Homo sapiens: one gene and its partners. The protein of the gene in region 3 purifies or fractionates together with the protein of the main gene of each other region. This does not show direct contact. Each region holds a gene or a part of one and is shown on either strand. Other genes may lie near its edges.

The links.
Region 1: the proteins of PSMD10 (region 3) and PAAF1 purify together in Homo sapiens (co-immunoprecipitation; 7 studies listed by BioGRID and IntAct, with this or other methods). This does not show direct contact.
Region 2: the proteins of PSMD10 (region 3) and PSMC6 purify together in Homo sapiens (co-immunoprecipitation; 7 studies listed by BioGRID and IntAct, with this or other methods). This does not show direct contact.

What each region holds. Positions count from the first base shown.
Region 1 is NC_000011.10:73,907,940-73,911,694, reverse strand, and holds part of PAAF1 (proteasomal ATPase-associated factor 1), read right to left. Parts: intron 2,297-3,755; coding exon 2,102-2,296; intron 1-2,101. UniProt on the Homo sapiens protein: Inhibits proteasome 26S assembly and proteolytic activity by impairing the association of the 19S regulatory complex with the 20S core.
Region 2 is NC_000014.9:52,717,180-52,720,934, forward strand, and holds part of PSMC6 (26S proteasome regulatory subunit 10B), read left to right. Parts: intron 1-901; coding exon 902-963; intron 964-1,049; coding exon 1,050-1,173; intron 1,174-1,797; coding exon 1,798-1,859; intron 1,860-3,681; coding exon 3,682-3,755. UniProt on the Homo sapiens protein: Component of the 26S proteasome, a multiprotein complex involved in the ATP-dependent degradation of ubiquitinated proteins.
Region 3 is NC_000023.11:108,084,833-108,088,587, forward strand, and holds part of PSMD10 (26S proteasome non-ATPase regulatory subunit 10), read right to left. Parts: intron 3,268-3,755; coding exon 3,121-3,267; intron 3,021-3,120; coding exon 2,854-3,020; intron 296-2,853; coding exon 142-295; 3' UTR 1-141. UniProt on the Homo sapiens protein: Acts as a chaperone during the assembly of the 26S proteasome, specifically of the PA700/19S regulatory complex (RC).

The DNA of each region.
Region 1 (3,755 bases), on a different chromosome or scaffold from region 3:
AAGAGATCGCACCACTGCACTCCAGCCTGGGCAACAGAGTGAGACTCCATCTCAAAAAAAAAAAAAAAAAAAGGAAGGTCACTGGTGACTTTAACAACAGCCATTTCAGTCAAGTACTTGGGCACAAACCATCCTAGAATGGGTTGAAGAGTAAATGGGAAATGAAAAATTACAGAAAACAAGAAAAAATATTCTCATTTAAATTACTTTAGGGCCAGGAGCTGTGGCTCATGCTTGTAATCCTAGCACTTTGGGAGGCTAAGATGGGAGAATCACTTGAGGCCATGAGTTCAACACCAGCCTGGGCAACATAGTGAGACCCTGTCTCTACAAAAATAAAAAAAAGTAGCTAGGTGTAGTGGTGCATGCCTAGAGTCCTAGCTACTCGAGAGGGTGAGAGGCAGGAGAACTGCTTGAACAGAGTACAGAGGATTATTAGGGCTAAGAAACTACTATGTATGATACTGCAATGGTAAATACATGTCACTGTACACTTGTCAGACCCTATAGGATATATAACACCAAGAGTAAGCCCTAATGTAAACTCTGAACTTTGGGTGACAATAATGTGTCACGTAGGTTCATCAGCTGTAATAAATGTACCACTCTGGTGGGGGATATTGATAGTGAGGAGGGCTATGTGTGAGTGGGTAAGGCAAAAGGTATATAAGAACTCCCTGTACTTTTTTTTTTTTTTTTTTTTTTGAGACAGAGTCTCACACTGTCGCCTGGGCTGGAGTGCAATGGAGCGATCTCAGCTCACTGCAACTTCCTCCTCCCAGGTTCACACGATTCTCCTGCCTTAGCCTCCCGAGTAGCTGGGATTACATGCACACACTACCACACCCAACTAATTTTTTGTATTTTTAGTAGAGATGGGGTTTCACTATGTTGGCCAGACTGGTTTCGAGCTCCTGACCTTGTGAATCGCCCGCCTCGGCCTCCCAAAGTGCTGGGATTACAGGCGTGAGCCACTGCACCTGGTCCCCTGTACTTTCTGCTAAATTTTGCTGTGAGCCTAAAATGGCCCTAAAAAATAAGGGCTATTTTTTAAAATGTGAGGGGCTAAGACAACAGTAGAAAAAACATTGTCCTATGGAACAGAGATGCAACTATTATTATGGGAAAATAAGAAGGAAAGTTGCCTTATTAGGACCTTTATTAGTCTCTCACCACAGCTATTCAACCCATTTCCTACTACTACCCCTCTTAATTCAACTTTCTAGCCCAGTCAAACATATCTTTTTATATAACACTTAGTTTCACGTCCAAGCTATAATGCAAACTGCCCCTACACCTACCCCTTGCCCTAGCTCCCATTGTCCTATCCTTACAATTACTGTCTGTTCAACTTCAACTTATCCTCTAAAGGTTCAAGCCAACTTCTTTTGTGACATCTTTCCTATCTATACTAACCGGGAACACTCCGTCCCTCTGAAAACCTATTATATTTGCATTAGGACTTGCTAATTTGCCAGGCATGGTGGTGCAGGCCTGTAGTCCCAGCTATTAGGGAGGCTGTGGTGGGAGCATCACTTGAGCCCAGGAGTTCAATGCCAGCCTGGGCAAAACAGCAGGACTCTATCGCTAAAAGAATAAAATAAATAAAAAGAATCACTAATTATTTCAGCCAAATGTTACTGTTCTCTAAATGTTTTAAAGCAAGCTTGTCCAACCTGCAGCCCAGGGTGGCTCTGAATGAGGCCCAACACAAATTCATAAACTTTCTTAAAATATTATGAGATTTATTTATTTTTAGCTCAGCTATCATCAATGTTGTGTATTTTATGTGTGGCCCAAGACAAGTCTTCCAATGTGGCCCAGGGAAGCCAAAAGATCGGACACCCCTGCTTTATAGGCATTTATCTCATCTTCTACATTAGATTGTACTTACTGAAACGCAGTGCTATGACATATACTTCCTTTGTAGATTCCAAAGTAATAGAAACATAGTAGGTACAGAGTAAATATTAATCGTATGGTGAAAACAGAAATACCAGGCACAGAGCAGAAAAGGATGAGGAAGAAAAGGAGAAACTAAGGCAATCACTGAAGGGGGCCTAAGAAAATAAAACAATGCTACATATCATTATCAACTTACTGGGCATCTGCTCAGGGGAGCCAAGGTTTATGGAGTTGTCAGCAGCACCCACCGCCACTCCATTGATAGAAGAACCACAATCTGCAAGGACTCCCAAGCAGGCTGAGCGCCCACAATCCCAAAGTCGTGCTGTCCCATCTCGAGAAGCAGACACCACATTCCTCCCCCGATCAACGATGGCTGTATCCAGGATACCTAGCAAGAGAAAAAAACTCCCTAAGATGGAGGATGGAGTAAAGGAACTACAAGGGCAGAGAAGATGGAGCTGCATAAATGACTCCATCCCTTCACAAACATGTTCTGAACAGGTACCACATGCTGGCCATGTTCAAGTGCTAGAAAAACAGAAATAGAGTCCCAGCTTCCCAATGAATCAAAGTCTAGCTGTGAAAGACAGGCATGGAAAAACAAGTACTGGATTTAATTTTTAGTGGAGTGTGCTAGAGAAATCATGTTCAAGTTTTTTATTTTGTCTTCAAAACTCTTTTTTAAAAAGAAAAATTAAGAGGTCGGGCGTGGTGGCTCACACCTGTAATCCCAGCACTTTGGGAGGCCGAGGCAGGTGGATTGCCTGAGCTCAGCAGTTCAAGACCAGCCTAGCTAACATGATGAAACCCTGTCTTTACTAAAAATACAAAATAGCCAGGCGTGGTGACACATGCCTGTAATCCCAGCTAAACAGGAGGCTGAGGCAGGAGAATCGCTCGAACCTGGGAGGCGTAGGTTGCAGTGACCCGAGATCACGCCACTGCACTCCAGCCTTCAACAGAGGAGACTCCGTCTCAAAAAATAAATAAATAAATAAAAAATAAAAATTAAGTAGACACCTTAACAAGAACTTTGGAGGAAAAAAAAGTTGACACCTAAGCTAATTCAGTTTGAAAATCACTGCCTTGGCCAGGTGCAGTGGTACACACCTGTAATTCCAGCACTTTGGGAGGCTGAGGCAGGAGAATCTCTTGAGCGCAGGAGTTTAAGACCAGCCTGGGTGACACAGCATGACTCTGTCTGTACAAAAAATTTAATTTAGGTATGGTGGCTCGTGCCTGTAATCCCAGCTACTCAGGAGGCTGAGGTGGGAGGATTGCTTGAGCCCTGGAGTTCAAGGCTACAGTAAGCCATGATTGCTCCACTGCACTCCAGCCTGGGCAGTGGAGCAAGACCCATATATATATATACACACATATATATACACATATATATATACACACATATATATACATATATATATACACACATATATACACATATATACACATATATATACATATATACACATATATATACATATATACACACATATATATACATATATACACATATATACACATATATACATATATATACACATATATATACACACATATATATATATTTATTTACATATATGCTGCTGCTGCTTTCACTGATAATTGATTAAAAGGGTTAGCCTCCCCATTTGAAAAAAGGACATGACTTCTGGTTTTGGCCAAGAAAGAGTAGTCCCATTGCTCCTAGGTCCTTCTGTTTACAACTGAAAAGTCATTGACACCACAAGCATAGTAAGACTTGGAATGATGGAAAGAAGGTGGTGGACCACTTAAGGACCTCAGGACTTAAAAAACAACACAGCAATGAGTTCCTGGATTTCCTTATTGCCTCCCACATGTCCTGG
Region 2 (3,755 bases), on a different chromosome or scaffold from region 3:
GTTGATTTGCCTGATTTAATCATTCTTCAATATATACATGTATCATAATTTAACCCATAAATATACAATTTATTTGTCAATTTAAAATAGATTTTAAAAATTATAACATTTTGATTAAAATTTTAATGTTGACAGCAGAAGTACTTTGGAATTTTTTTTTTTTTTTTTTTTTTGAGACAGAGTCTTGCTCTGTCACCCAGGCTGGAGTGCAGTGGCGAGATTATAAGCTCACTGCAACCCCCACCTCCCGGATTCAAGCGATTCTCCTGCCTCAGCCTCCCCAGTAGGTGGGACTACAGGCATGTGCCACCACGCTCAGCTAATTTTTTGTATTTTTAGTAGAGACGGGGTTTCACTGTGTTTCGATCTCCTGACCCTGTGATCTGCCCGCCTCAGCCTCCCAAAGTGCTGGGATTACAGGTGTGAGCCACCACACCTGGCCAAGTACTTTGGAATTTTAAATGAAAATTCTATTTAGGATTTAGCTTTCATTTTGGAAAATTTACTTGCCAAACGATTATATTCTTAAAAGGATTTTAAAAATTTGTTTCACATAGGCCGGGTGCGGTGGCTCCTGCCTGTAATCCCAGCACTTTGGGAGGCTGAAGTGGCAGGATCACCTGAGCCCAAGAGTTCAAGACCAGCCTGCGCAACACAGAGAGACCCCGTCTCTGAAAAACAAACAGACAAACAAAAAACTTAGCTGTGCGTGATGGCACATGCCTGTCATCCCAGCTACTTGGGAGGCTGAGGTGGGAAAATCGCTTAGGTCTGGGAGGTCAAGGTTGCAGTGAGCTGTGATCTCGCCACACTCCAGCCTAGGTGACAGAGTGATTGCCTGTCTCAAAACAAATTTTTTTCTACCTTACCATCTAATTAAGACTTCTTTTGTCATTCTTAGGTACGGGAAAAACACTCTTGGCACGAGCCGTTGCTAGCCAGCTGGACTGCAATTTCTTAAAGGTAAAGGGAAGATTATTTTGTACTTATTGAAATTTAATTTTACTTGAATTATCTTATATTTACCTTACTGTTTTTCCTTTAATCAGGTTGTATCTAGTTCTATTGTAGACAAGTACATTGGTGAAAGTGCTCGTTTGATCAGAGAAATGTTTAATTATGCTAGAGATCATCAACCATGCATCATTTTTATGGATGAAATAGATGCTATTGGTAAGAATAACACCCTTGTTGAAAGTTTTAGGACTTTTTTTTAAATGTAAAAGAACCTTTTTCCCTCTCTTAATCTGTAATTGTGACTTGTATGAAGTAGATACCACAATGAATCAGATGTTAGTTTAACCAATTTTAATAAATAACCTTTCATGGCCGGGTGTGGTGGCTCATGCCTGTAATCCCAGCACTTTGAGAGGCCAAGGTGGGCAGATCACCAGGTCAGGAGATCGAGACCATCTGGCCAACATGGTGAAACCCTGTCTCTACTAAAAATACAAAAATTAGCTGGATGTGGTGGCACATGCCTGTAATCCCAGCTACTGAGGAGGCTGAGGCACGAGAATCGCTTGAACCCAGGAGACGTAGGTTGCAGTGAGCCGAGATCACACCACTGCACTCCAGCCTGGCGACAGAGCGAGACTCCGTCTCAATAAATAACCTTTCACTTTAACAAAATGAGAAATGTTACACCAAAATCAAGTCTAACTTTGTCAGCATAATTCTTGCTCTTTAATTTTCATCTTAATGTTTTAAGCCACAGACTGTTATGTTCTGTTTTCTTAAATGATGGTTGTAGAGGAAAAGAGTAATGCATATAAATTTCCAAATCTACTATCTTAGGTGGTCGTCGGTTTTCTGAGGGTACTTCAGCTGACAGAGAGATTCAGAGAACGTTAATGGAGGTAATATTTGGTAAAGGGGGTTTATAAAGAAACCAATGTTTATTAAATGAAGAACTGAACATTGCATATTTGATAGTCAAAATATATAGAACATTTTAAATGAAATATGAAATTTGAAAATATTGTCAGGAACAAACATGTTTCTCTATCACAAACTCTAAGAAAATGACTACTGGAAAATAAGGCTATCTGCCAAATTCCATTTGGTATACACCTGTACTATTCTGTGTTTTTTTGAGTAGATCAGTCATTCATATATTTAAATTCTTATGAATGTGATCTTGCGGTAGTTTTATGAAGACATTTTTTGTAATGGTCATATTAAGACTGTTGGCAATAAATGAGCTATAATTATGTATGAAGCTGCTCTAAAAATTATTTTTTTCTCTCACTTTATTGCTGAGACTGAGGCAACTAAAATAGTTTTGATAATTGAAGAGGATAGATGACAGAATGAAAGAATGCACATAAAGCCTTCCTCCAGTTTTACCTTTCCCCACTCCAAATTCTGTGAAAGTGATATCAAGAGTCCAAATACATTTTCCACTTCAAATAGAAACTAGGTAGCATGGGTAATGCAGTGTCAAATTCTTTCTCCTTAGAAGTATTTGAAAAATCTTTTTTCATAAATTATACAGATCCGCTCAGAAGATAACATAGCATTTGGAAATTATAAAATCTCTTAGAAACCTTAAATTGAGATATTTTTAAATAACACAAATACTCATTTTATTCAAGTAACTAATATATCATCAACTAACACATTGTCAGACTAGCTATATTTTAGAGAGTTTGTTAAATGCAGTAAGGTTTTTCATTTATTCAAGAAAACTTTAGAAATTGAGGACAATATTTTTTATGTCTTTTAGTATTTCTGTGTACAGTAGAATTATTTGAAAAAATAGGCCAGGCATGGTGGCTTCTGCCTGTAATCCCAGCACTTTGGGAGGCCCAGCTGGGCAGATCATGAGGTCTGAGCATTGAGACCAGCCTGACCAACGTAGCGAAACACCATCTCTAGTAAAGATACAAAAATTAGCTGGGCGTGGTGGCGTGTGCCTGTAATCCCAGTTACTCAGGAGGCTGAGGCAGGAGAATTGCTTGAACCCAGGAGGTGAGGTTGCAGTGGGCTGAGATCGCCCCATTGCACTCCAGCCTGGGTGACAGAGCGAGAGTCTGTCTCCAAAAAAAAAAAAAAAAAAAAAAGCAGTCCCAGCTACTCAGGAGGTTGAGGTGGGAGGACTGGTCGAGCCCAGGAGGTGAAGGTTGCAGTGAGCGATGATCAGGCCACAGTACTCCAGCCTGGGTGACAGAGTGAAACTCTGTCTCAAAAAAAAAAAAAAAAAAAAAAAAAAAAAATTATCAGTTTATTATCAAATTTGTAGAAAAATCTTTGTATCCATTTATCCTAATATAAATGTTATGTCTGACATATCATAAGCACTTTATATATTGGATTTTATTATTAGCTTTTCCTTTAAAAAATAATTGATGAAATTTTGGACATTGGAAATTAGATCCACATAGTTTAATTTCATAATTCTTGACATGATGGAAGCCTTCAGATTTATTAAAACTACCTGGTAGCTATAGAAAGATACATAGCTATTAAAAGGTACATAATCTAGCTTAGAACTTTGAGGCTAGAAAGTATATCCCTTTATATAAGAGAGAGAAAAAGAATTCTATCAAATGACCATTCTGAAGATAGAACATATCTATCTGTAGACAATACATTTCATGGCATTAGACATATAAAAGGTGTGTGCTATTTTTTTTAATGGTTAGAATTTTTGTAAAATCTGATTCTTAATATTCTTAGTTACTGAATCAAATGGATGGATTTGATACTCTGCATAGAGTTAAAATGATCATGGCTACAAACAGACCAGATAC
Region 3 (3,755 bases):
ACAAGAGTCAACATGTTTATAAGACTTTGAAGGTGAGAAAACTTCATCATTCATAGATGATGTCTTGTGCACAAATACATTAGTTTGTAGGACACTGGGGACAACAACACAACATACAAAGTAAGAATAAATCCAAGCTGTTTAACCTTCCACCATTCTCTTGAGTATTAAACCCAGGCCACCTTTGGCCACTTGCAGGGGTGTCTTTTCTTCTTTATTCTCAATGTAAATACTTGCTCCTTGGGACACCAGCAGTTTTGCTTCTTCCACTCTCTCCTCATCACAGGCTAAGTGTCTGAAATCAGGGACCACCAGAGACCAATTAATCACTACCAATTCTATGTAATGGTTAGGATTTCTTGCTAGGTAGTCTGAAGTGCATATGATTAAGAAATGGTAACATTGGAAAGTTATTTAATCAGGAAAGAAACATCAGTTTGCATAGGGAGACTGTAAGTTAAAATTCTACAAAAAAAGCCTTGTAATACCAGATCGTAAATCATAATTCTGGTTCTACTTACAATAGAAGAAGGGATCTAAATGCTAGCCTAAGGAACAACTTTCTCATTTTACAGAGATAAGTAGTTGTTTACCTCAAACACTACATGTAATAATTCAGGGTTAGAATTTAGAAAAGCCTCAGTTCATAAACTGTTAATAGTAATTCGTGCAGCTTAAAGTTTGAAAAAGCAGTTTAAAAGATTTTATCTCATTTAGTCCATATATCTATCTTATAAGTTAGCAAAGTATTATTATCATCATTTTACAGTTGAAATGGTGACAGAGGTTAAAGTTCCTACCTATGCTGACATGTCTTGGCAGTAGACTGAGTGGAAGAGGGTAACAACTTTTGCCATGCACTTAAGAGTTTGCCAGGAGGGTATTAGGAGGCACTTTACATGTTGCTTTACTTAAACCTCACAATAATCTAGTGAGGAAGGAATTATTACCCTTATATTACAGATGAGGAAATTAAGATTCAAGGAAGATTAAGTAACTTTTATAAATTGTTTAATACAAGTATTTAATATTGTTAGTAAGTGGTAGAGTCTGAATTGGGTGAACATCATCTAGCTATTCATAAATCCTATGTTCGTCCCAGTACTCTATCTTGTCTGACTCCTAGATTTCCTCTAGGCCATCCTGCCTTTCTATTTATGGAGAAAAGAGGTAGGGCATACAGGTCTTTCTAAACAGGGTCTCTTAGAATGCAGGAAAGATTTTAAAAACTAAGAGTTAAGAAAATAATACTTTTTAAAAGTTGGCTTAAAGTCAAATTGGAAAAGGCTGAACCTCACTCTGGACTAAAAAGAAGACTCACAGAACTTCTGGTTCAAGAAAAAGTCACCATTCAACACAGAAGAAAAGTGGCCAAGTACCGTGGAAAAATATCAAGGTAAAGGCCAGCTTCAGATCATACACATAATTCAATTACAGATGGATTTTAAGAGTTAAATGCAAAACAATAACACTAACCCTCAATCAAAACCAATGAAACGTTAAAATAACCTATAATAAAAGACGGGTGAATATTTAACTAATTTCAGGGTAAGGAAGAGCTTTCTAGTCATGAGGAAAGATGAATGGGCTTGACTACGTAGAAATTTTAAAACTTCTCTTATGTAAAAGAAATTATGAACAAAATGAAAAGATAAACTAGGAAAAATATTTTCAACTAACATTGCAGAAAATTAATATTTTACCATGCCAAATCAAGAGCACTTAAAACCCAGTGAAAATAAATTAATTCCCCAAAAGGAAACAGAGAAAGGGACACAAAAAGTTACAATTAGATAAGAAATGTAATTACCTATGGACATTAAAAAAAGTTCAAATTCACTGATAATAAAAATATAAATTACCTCTATGAAATATCATTTTCACATAACAAAAGGATAATTTAGTGTTGGTGAGGGGGTAATAGGCACTCTTACACTGCTGTTGGGAGGGTAAAATGATACAACTCCTCTGGAAGCAATTTGGCAACATATAGCAAGTCTTAAAATGTGTGTATTTGTTGACGCAGCAATTCCACTTCTAGGAGTCTATAAGAAGGTAATCATCAGAAATGTGGCCAAAAGTTTTCTGTACAAAGTTGGTCAACTATTTTAGAGACAAGGTCTTGCTCTGTTCCCCAGGCTGGAGTGCAGTGGTGTGATCACAGCTCACTGTAACCTGGAGCTCCTGGGTTCAAGCAATCCTCCCACCTCAACCTCCCGAGTAGTTAGTACTACAGGTGCATGCCACCATGCCTAGCTAAGTTTTTAATTTTTTCTAGAGACGGGGGGTCTTGCTGTGTTGCCCAGGCTGGTCTTGAACTCCTGGCCTCAAGTGATCCTCCCGCCTTGGCTTTACAAAGTGCTGGGATTACAGACATGAGCCATTATGCCTGGCTCAATGTACCATTATTTATAATAGTGAAAAACTCATAAAAGTTTAAATATACAGTAATAGAGGAATGATTAAATTATGGCACATCTATACAGAATTTTATATACCCATTAAAAAGGTTTTAAACATATTTAATATATGCTTATACTATGAGGTGAAAAGAACAAGAGCTAAAACTACATACACAGTATGACCCCAATTTTGCTAAAAAATATGTATGTATAAAATATATACATTTGAATATAAAAGACCAGGAGGAAATACACAAGAATGTGATCAGTAGTTATTTCTGAGTGGCAAGATAATAGGCAATTTTTATCTTTATATTTTGTGCAATTTAACATTTTTGCCATTAACACGTATTGCATTTATAAGCAGAATAAAAAAAGAAATGATGTATAAGAATTATTGCAAGAAGGCTAATGTCAGGTAGAATACAAATGACTGCTACTTGTCACTTACAGAGGAGTGTTACCCTCAGTGTCTTGGATGTTTGTGGATGCTTTGTAGTACAGAAGGATATGAATCATCTTCAAGTTACCCTTGGCTGCTGCCCGGTGCATTGCTGTAGCCTCATAATGGTCCTTAGCATCTGGATTAGCCCCGCCTTCCAGTAACATGACAGCGATCTGGAAAGATGGAGAAGAAAGAAGAAAACAATGCAGAAATCTATCTGTGTTTGTATACACGTTTAGAACTCAACAGAAGTAGCCTAGGATGGAACCATACCTCATGCCTGTTTTTCGAAGCTGCATAATGTAAGGGAGTACAGCCATTTTGATTGACAGCATTCACTTGAGCACCTTTTCCCAGAAGGGCTTTTACAATCTCATCCCGGCCAGCAGAAGCCGCAATATGAAGAGGAGACCAACCTGCCTATAAAAGAAGTAGGTAGTAGAAATACCAGGGGAAAAAGGCACAAGGATTAGTGCTAACATTTAGGAAGGGTTAGCAAGGAGCTTTACAAAGGCAAAAAAATATTTGCCTACAAAAAAGGTTCCATTCTTACTCTTCACAAATCTAATCCTAATATAACCATATCATTAGAATAAATCTCTTTATGTAACAAAAAAGTTATTTAGGTCCTCATTATTCAGGCCATGTTCACCAAAAAACAAAAAATCCAACATAATAGAAAGAGTTTATGGTCTTTTAGGGTTCACCATAACAAGCCCTGATCTGTATGTTTATTTTTGTTTTTTTATTTTTAGAGACAAGGTCTCAGTCTGTCACCCAGGATAGAGTACAATGGCTCACTGCAGCCTCAAACTACTAGGCTGGAGCAATCCTCCTACCTCAGCCTCTCCTGTATGTTTACCTTAAATCACAGAGTATGAGTGGCAAACATAACATTGTAAAATAAT